Linked DNA regions of Homo sapiens: region 2 is linked to region 1. Evidence: fine-mapped expression QTL. A gene starts in region 1. The other region holds a variant in brackets. All regions are shown on one strand. Distances are from middle to middle.

Region 1 (4,397 bases):
ATAGGAGTTTGCTAGATGAAGAGGGGAGAGAAATGCATTCCTAGCAAGCCCTCAGTAAATGCCCCTCATTAGCATTTTAAGCATATGATCACCGTCTTCTTGTTAGAATATAAGCCCAAAGAGTATAGAGATAATGCCCTTGTCATCCCGTCACCACTAGGATAGCACCTTGAAGGAAGTAAATGCTCAGTAAATATCCTTGAATGAGTGAATGTTACAAAATCAATGAATTTCTTGAATGAAATCAAAAGTAACTGCCATGGCCTCATCCCATGGCTTTATTCAGAAGGCAATTAAGGGAGATGCAAATTCTAGTAAAAAACAGCATAGACCTTGCAATAGGACAAACAGTGTCTTCATTCAGGGCCTGTCCCTTGAGGGAAGTGACACCACATCTCAGTCTCAGCCTCCTCATATGTAGAAGGGGGGTAGGATAGTTTCTTTACAGAGTTCCTTTAAAGATTAAGATGGCACCTAATTAAAGGATGAACAAGAGTATGTAATCAAGAGATAAGTATTATTAATATTAGTACTATGAAGACATTGGCAAATTTCAGGCATGCAGTTTTTCAAGGTTTGTAGGTTATTGAAGACAACAAGCCAGGTACAGCTTGAAGGCCAGAGGATGTTATCACCCAAACACCCACCAGGCCTTTACCTTGCTGTACTTGCCTAGCGTTCATCCACACTCCTCATCCTGTCTCCAGTGACTGAGGGCCAGACTGCAGGGTTTAGATTCTTGATGTATTGGGTATGATATACTAGCAGTTGGTAACATTCTGGGGCCTCGGTTTCCTCCTAGGGTGGATCATACAGTGTCTGAACAGGTTAAAATCAGATAATTCATAGGCAACACATTCCACAGAGCCTGCACAGAGCTGAACAAGCAATACTTGTTCAGCTGTTACTATTAAAACCACCAGGCCCTGCTGGATTTTCTGTTAATTACCCTGTAAACTGAAACAGCCTTTCCTGGGCTAAGAATTGTTTCTTTTCAAAGATTCCCTATATGAAAAAAAGAGAAGTAACTCCTCTCTGACGTCTGGAAATCTAGCTTCCCCATCACTACGTCCTTGGGTGCAGGTTCAGAGCCACCGGGCAGCCTAGATGAGGCAGGTGAGCAGCGGCTGAAGACTCTGGAACCTTTGCTTCTCTCTGGAAGCTGCAGAGCTCGGCTCTGCCCTGCTCTGCGTTCCTAACCCTGGAAGAAGCGGTCTGGGTGCAGCCAAGCACTGGACATGCTCGCGAGAGCCAGGGCAGGCTCGGGTCGTCCGCAGGACTCGAAGGCTTGCTGTGCTCTCCTGTTTGCAGAGACCTGGGTGTAGCTGTGGTGCATAGATGTGGTGCATCGGGTGCCGAGCGGATCCCTCGGTGCGTGCAGCTAGGGATCCAAGCCTCCTCAGGCTAACCCTAGAGCCGAACTGAACTCTGAGCCGCCCGGGGTTCGCGCGCTCAGTTCCTGGTCTTGGAAACGCCCAGCTGGGGTTCTCTCTGCAGACAAAGGGGTGCACGTGTCCCTAGCGCCCCTCTTTCTCAGCCGTGAGCCCCTCCCTGGCTGCGTACCCCGCAGCCACAGCAGCTGCAGCCCCAGCGCCACCACCCAACCCCGGCGGCCTGGGCCGGTGCGCGCTCTCGGGGCCCAGGGATTGGCTCGCACTCCCCATTCAGGGACCGCGAGGGCTAGCGGGCGGCGCACGGCGCTCTGTGTGTGTGTGTGTGTGTGTGTGTGTGTGTGTGTGTTTGTGTGTGCGCGCGCGCGCGTGTGTTGTGCGGCGCGCGGGCGAGCGCGTGTGTGCGCGCGAGAGCTCGCGTGCAGGAGTCACTGGGTGTGCGTGCGTGTGTTATGGGTTTGATTCCAGAGCAGGTTGCACATTGGTCCTGGGTGGCTCGCAGGCTCAGGTCGTGCTTGGGCGTCCTCCTCCTAATCGTTTCCGAAGTAGCAGCAGCAGCACCACCACCAGCAGCAGCAGCAGCAGCAGCAGCAGCAGCAGCAGCAGCAGCCGCCGCGGCAACATCGAGCTCAGCGGCACAGCAGGCAGAACTGTGCAGAAGCGAGCACCGTTTGGGGAGTCCGGGGGGCGGGTAAGAGGGAGGAGGGGGAAAGCCTGTCTTGGTCTTTGGGATTATTTTTTTTCCCCTTCTTTCCCTCTCTCTCTCTTTCTTGAGGGTGTGTGTTGCCCCCTCGAAGTGAAGGAATTTTGCTCCAAAGCGAGCTGGGACCGAAGACTCTAGGCTAAGTTATCTATGTAGATGGTGTCAGGGAGCGAAGCTACTGACCGAGCTGCTGGTAAATGTTTTTCACTTCTTACTCTTTAATGCTTAAGGCTTTTTTCCCCTTTTCTTTCTTTCTTGTTTCCTTTCTGTTGCTCCTCATTCTGCAATCGCTCCTGAATCAGCTGCAGTTCTCTTTCTCTCCTTGCGTTTGTGCAGTTTACAACTTGTTTCATGGTTTTCTATGTATTTTTTTTTCCTCCTTCATCCTCAGATGAATGCTGGAACATTTAAATTCGGCACTTCGGGAGGTCATCATTAGTTGCATGAGTTTCAGGGGGGGAGGGGAAAGATTGCTAGAGCAGACTGTTATTTCCCTGCAGAAGGACTGCCGGTTTCTCTCTAATGTTCATCGCAATTATAGGGATTTTTTTTTAGGATGCATTTTAACGTTGCATTGCTGTTTAAGGTTATCGTTCTCCAGGATTACAATGCATTTGACTCAGTTTTGACAGCATGAGAGATGCCAGTGATTCCAGAACTACTGTATGGTACATGCTGGCTAAAATATTCAAAATTGCAGGAGGAATCATTTGCATTCCAAAAGAGAATTTCTTTAAAAATGCCGTTTTGCATCACATTGCTACAGATTTGCAGGAGGCAATAATAGACACCACTACCCATGTTGCTTGCAAAAGATAATAAACATATAAGTGCTTTAGTGCATCACATACTGTCTTGGGCTCCAGTGATTGAGCTATTGCTAAATTTACTTAATAATAAATTTAGGGCTATGGAGAAAGAGGGAGATTGCTGGTACTGTTTTATTCAAAATTGTGAGACACGTACAGCAATATCTCTCTTAGATCTTACTTGAAGTGGCATCTTGTCAATGGAGGGGAGGGTTCTGCATACACATGGAATAAAATTATTTAAAATAGCCAGCATAATGAATGCAAATTGAACTCTAACTCTTTTCTTAAAAATAGAACTCACTCTGTAACTCTGGCTGCCGGGATCTGTTTTAAATATTATTTAAAAATTAATATACAACAGCTCTTTAATGCATTCATATCATTTAAAGTTCTTTGGAGGGTTCTTGATCATTACCATGTTTTATTTGTTTTGCTTTTTTCCTCTTAAGTTTTCAGTTCCAGTTGAGTAGAAAAACTGAAGGGCCAGTGAGTAAAGGCAAATCAGCAATTTAGAAAGGAATCAGTGTATAGTTGTAAAATTTCTGCTAAGCCATGGAAAAATGAACTAATATAATGGCAGCTTAAATGGAGGAAGGGGGCCTCTGTGGTACAGCAGGTTGCAGTTTCTGTACATGTATCATCATCCTGAGAAACCCTGAACTCTAAACTGAGATGAGGACATCCAGTTCAGGGATACTCTGAGACACATACATTCTACAGAGGGAAAATGTTGTTATTCAAGGAACCCTCCTTCTGCTAGGTGGTTGCCACATCATAGAGCAGCAACTTGTCTATGTGCCAAGAATACGTTTGCAATAATACTCTTAAACTTTGTTTAAATGTAAACTTAACTAATGTTGGAAGAACTACATGAAAAAGTGAAGGCTCTTCAGCCCCAAAAAACAAAACAAACTGTAAATTAACTCAACTAGTCAGATCTTCTTTTATGTAGAAAAAAACCTACTCTAAGGCACCATGCAAATTCACCTGTTCTGGGTCCCCTGTGTTGACAAAAGCCTTTCTTAAAATTGTGAACAGAATTCCTAAGACCTAAAGCTTATTTCTTCCTTTGTAGTCTGCTGAAAGTAATAAGGCATTTTATTTAGAATGAAAGCTCAGCTTATTCATGGGTCCCTTGAGATGGCAATATTGCTGTTTTAAAATATTTTCATGGACCTTTGAATGGACTGTTTTGATCAAGTTAGTGGGGGGAAAATCCAGCTTGCATTCATTAAGACCACAGTTGTCTTTGAGTGAAGCATTTGTTTGTCTAGGTACTAAAGAAAAATGATTTCATATAGTAAACTTCAATCCTAAGAACCCAAGGTACCTAAAGCGTCAGGTTCCCTCCTTCTAGGACCCAAACCAAAAAGCAATATACCCCATGCTGGGCAGCTGTATTATTTCTCTGGCATATTCCACACACATGTGTAGGAAAAGATAACTGACCAGGCTAAGGGCTTATTTTGCTAGGCTCGTGGGGCAAGATTT
Region 2 (4,397 bases), 860 kb after region 1:
TTCCTAGGGGTAATGGAAGCTGCATATGAATATAGTAACTAAAAAAAAAAATCAAAAACCTTGGAAGACAAATAAACATGGCAGAAGCAGCAAGACAATGTTTTTATGTTTTCACTTTTAATTGACTAAAAATATCAATACAACATATTCCTTGGACAGTCACCCCAACACCCCTCCCCTTTTTAATGGAAACTAGGAGGTGGTTGGGAGGAAGAACACTCAATTGATAAAACAACAGTTACCCCTGGGAAGTGCAAGTAGAGGACTGGAAAGGACTGTATTTTTTTAAAATACACATCCACATTGTTTGATTTTTGTTTTGAACCAGCCTGCACTACATTTTAAAATTAAGAATATACCTTTTTTAAAACTGGTGGGGGAGAAGGAAGAAAGAGTTACTTTCTACACAAGATAGCAACGTTGTTTTTAAGTAAGTTTTATTAACAAGTGACAATTACTTTTTTATGATACATTTAAGATAGTGAATTATGAATGACTGAAAATCCCCTCCAGCCTAACTGAGAACCATTATGTCTGGTAATTGCCACTGATTTCTGCAAACAGTCATTTTTCTCTGGCCTGTTAACATAATTTAAATTTTTAATTGCCCTTCATAATTGTCTATTGGAGTTAACAAACAGTCCCATTCACCTAAGGGTTTCCGACCAGGCCCTACCTCCAGGAACTCACACTGGAAACATCTAAGACCACTTGAGAATGCCATTAGGAGTTTGTGGATGGTCCAATTGAGGTGGCAGCCTCTGTGACAAATTGTGACATCTTTTTAAGGACCCATCCAACTATGGAATAATATATTTTTGGATTTCTGTATCAAGTTTGCTCACTTTTGCTTTGTAGCTACCTGACAAAAAAATAATAAATAGAGAAAAAATGTCACACTTGTAACCATGTTCACCAGGACTTTCATCACATTGCCTTATCTGTTGCACTGGGATAAGTGTGAACATTCTGGGAGAAGGACAGGTGCCAAGTGTTCATGTACTATAGGACTCACAGGTTAATTAAATCAGTGACATCAGAGAGGGGGGCAGAATTAACAGTAAAGATACATATTTATCTCAATATATGTGTGTATATACCCAACTCAGAAAAAAATGATCATAAAGTGCTTTAGTAGTTTTGTAGTTACATAAACTACAAACCGGCTATCTCAGCCGGTTCTTTGACTACTTTGCATACTTTGATCATGCTCGGTTTTCTGAGAGGAGGCACTGGAAAATCTGCTTTTTTCATATAGTTATATAAACTACTAGTAGTATATAAACTACTGTCATTTTCCTGAGTTGGGTAAATTCAAAAAAGTAGAAAGAAAAATGCAAAGAAAATTTCCTATAATTCCATTTATAGTATATATGTATGCCTAAGTACACACACACACACACACACACACACACACAGAGATATATCTGGATAGTGTTTTATAATATATTTCTCACATGATTTACTATTCTTGTAAAATTTTATTTGTAAGGACTACATGTGATTCAATATGTAGTTTCGCCATTGGTTATTTAAGCATTCCACCCCTGTTGGATATTAAATTTCTTGGTTTCTACCATTACAAAAAGCTGAAAGAGTGAGCCACCCTGCATATTTTGTATACATCACTGATAATTACCTCAAGAAAACATCCTACAAGGTGAGTGATTCAGGAGTATGAACCTACTGCTGAATCACCCTCCAAAAAGGTTGTAGATCAAAATACGCTCTCTCATCAGTATATGAGAGGGATGACTTCCCATATTTTTCCCAGCACTAGATGTTAACATTTATTAAAATGTTGGTTTCATTACTAGTCTAAAACATAGCATTCATTCATTTCTAAAGGTTACATTAATTTGACCAAAAGATGCTGACAAACATTTTTATGTATTAAGGAGAGCATAGGTATACATTGTGAATGGCATGTTCACCCCACCTCATCCACTTTCTATTAAGATATCCATATTCTTATTTGCACAGTTAAAACTTTAAATTCTCTGTGCTTTTTAAAAATCTCTTAAGATTGCTCTGACTCAA[G/A]ACTACCAAGTAGGTGTTCAGTGCCAAAGAACAATAGACTCCAACCACACAACTAGTTCCCATGCTACCTGAAAAAGGGCTTGGTTTTTTTTTTTTCTGCCACCTTCACGCTCTTACGCATTTGCAGTAGGTGCATCTTAGTGCATCTACTTAGCGCAGCATATGAAACCACAAACAAAACTGTCCCAGGGACCTTGAAGTCTGTCTTCCACTTCCCAGGGCCCCTTCATCCTCCTTTTGGTTCCCCTCAGAATGTCCAAGTGAATCCCTTTGTGCATCCCCACCTGGTTTAGTATTGAGGCAAATGGGAAATGCCCAGAAGAAATACCGACTTGAACCACTAGTGTGAAATACTAACTCACAGCAATTCACTCCACACAAGTTGGCAACTTCTGACATAAAGCAATGGCTGATAAGTATAATGACGAGGAATCTGATGCTTGGTGATACAACAGTAGCCACAGAAATGGTCGGCAGTGAATATCTGATTACCTGGCTCAAATCTATTTCCAATGTTGGGATCTCCAGGGTCCATTTAAGTATCTTCAAACAAATGTTCCAGCCGAGATATTTATGGGATTCTCTACAGGCAGCTGACTGGCTGCTGTGGGAGGAAGTCCAAAGCTGAGATATTTGTCCTAGCTTGAAAACTGTCAGTACTATTTGTATGAATGCGTTCAAAGTGGCCATGTTTCTTCATAACTTTTTGGACTAGTTCAACAGGGACATGAAAGAAGGACACTAAACTGATTCCTACATGGAAGCTTCCATTGCTTACTGTCTGCTTGGAACTCTGAGGGTGACATTTATTATAAAAATAGCAACAGTTAGTTATAATTGCTGACACATTCCATGCTTTCAAATTGAAACTAATAATCTCATTACTCTTATTTCCCTCACCTCCTCCTAAAAACTCATATGATAGCACATTTTTCTGTGATTCCTATCTCAGCCGATTCTTTGCCTACTTTGCATACTTTGATCAAGCTCGGTTTTCTGAGAGGAGGCACTGGAAAATCTGCTTTTTTCATCACCTATACAGGAAAAAAGAGGATTCTATAAGTCTAAAGCAAAATTATAGATCGGGGTTTCAACCGTGAACTTGGGTTTGTTCTTTTTAAAGCTTAAATAATGAATGAGGACTTCTTTGAGGAAGTGTGGCTTTCTTTGGGGAAATTTATAAGCACCTGATGGCTGAGACCGCAGGGCGTGGAGTCAGAAATTGGTTCAAATTCTGGGCTTGCTGCTTTCTAGTTTAGGGTGTTATTTTGAGTGAAATAGGAATAGGGAAATGGGTTGTTGTGAGAATCAAATGAAATGACACAGGTACACAAAGCACACTCAATGAGTGTTGATAAGTATTGTCATTGTTATGATTAAAACTTGACAAAAATCCTTTCGTTTAACACTCAGGACATCTGTGAGTCGGGTGTTTACTGGTTCCTCTGCTTCTCAATGACACCCACATTCCCAGTTGATTCTTACAGGCCCAGTCCTGCTTTTCATGAGAATAGAAAGGAAAAAATATGGGATGACTTAAGAGATGCCAGATGAATCTTTGCCCCGAAGGCAACTGTTTATTCAGCTCATTCAACGAACAAATAATTTCACTGATGATTTATTGTTTTCCTCAGTGAAATTTTCCTTCATACATCCATAATTAAAAAGGGTGCAGAACAGTAAATCGGTGAACCTGTCATATGACATTTGTTAGCATCGAAAACCAAGGCATCATAGCTTTTAGAAAAGAAAAAACGAAGAGGTTAGATAGGCCCTGATGTATGGATTTTTTTAACTGGCTGTCATTTCAGAAATGAAAAAGTGTGAGGTGTCTGTGTGTGTGTGTGTGTGTGTATGTATGTATGTGTTTAAAGAATGGAGACCAAAATGTAAAGTGAATGTAATGCCCTGTCTTCCAATATAATGACCTAATTTCTATTGATATTGAAAATATACCCCTTATTAGCAATGAGCACATGCAGTGTTTGCAGTTTCTCTAAGGAAGGAATACCAGTTTTTGCTTATTTGTTTTATTTTTTAGTGACAGAAAATTTTCCAATGTTAGGAAAAAAATTAAATTACCTATCTAATTCACAAGCTTTCCTCTCTTTTTTGAGATGGAATTTTGCTTTTTTTGTACAGGCTGGAGTGCAGTGGCACGGTCTTGGCTCACTGCAACCTCCGCCTCCCGGGTTCAAGCAATTCTCCTGCTTCAGCCTCCCAAGTAGCTGGGATTACAGGCATGCGCCACCACGCCCTGCTAAATTTTTTTGTATTTTTAGTAGAGACGGAGTTTCACCGTGTTAGCCAGGCTGGTCTCAAACTTCTGACTTCAGGTGATCCACCCGCCTCGGCCT

Which allele goes with the higher level. Alleles are on the strand shown, and positions count from the first base shown. SD is a standard deviation of normalised expression in the study named.
For the expression in lymphoblastoid cells of the gene that starts at base 1,793 in region 1, allele A in region 2 goes with a higher level than allele G (moderate effect, 0.46 SD a copy in GEUVADIS).

Evidence for each region. PIP is the estimated chance that this variant, and not a neighbour inherited with it, causes the effect. A credible set is the group of variants that fine-mapping cannot tell apart.
Region 2: its variant is the best candidate, but not a certain one, in a credible set for the expression of TENM2 in lymphoblastoid cells (GEUVADIS, PIP 0.71).

The regions. Positions count from the first base shown.
Region 1 is chr5:166,977,237-166,981,633 of GRCh38, forward strand. TENM2 (teneurin transmembrane protein 2) reads left to right here and starts at 1,793. Exons shown (of 31, transcript NM_001395460.1): 1 at 1,793-2,287. RefSeq lists enhancers at 850-1,351, 1,352-1,851.
Region 2 is chr5:167,835,681-167,840,077 of GRCh38, forward strand. The region is part of intron 4 of TENM2 (teneurin transmembrane protein 2); the gene reads left to right. Among named protein-coding and RNA genes, the nearest start is that of TENM2-AS3, 120 kb to the right of the region's middle. The variant G/A (reference allele first, on the strand shown) is at 2,041.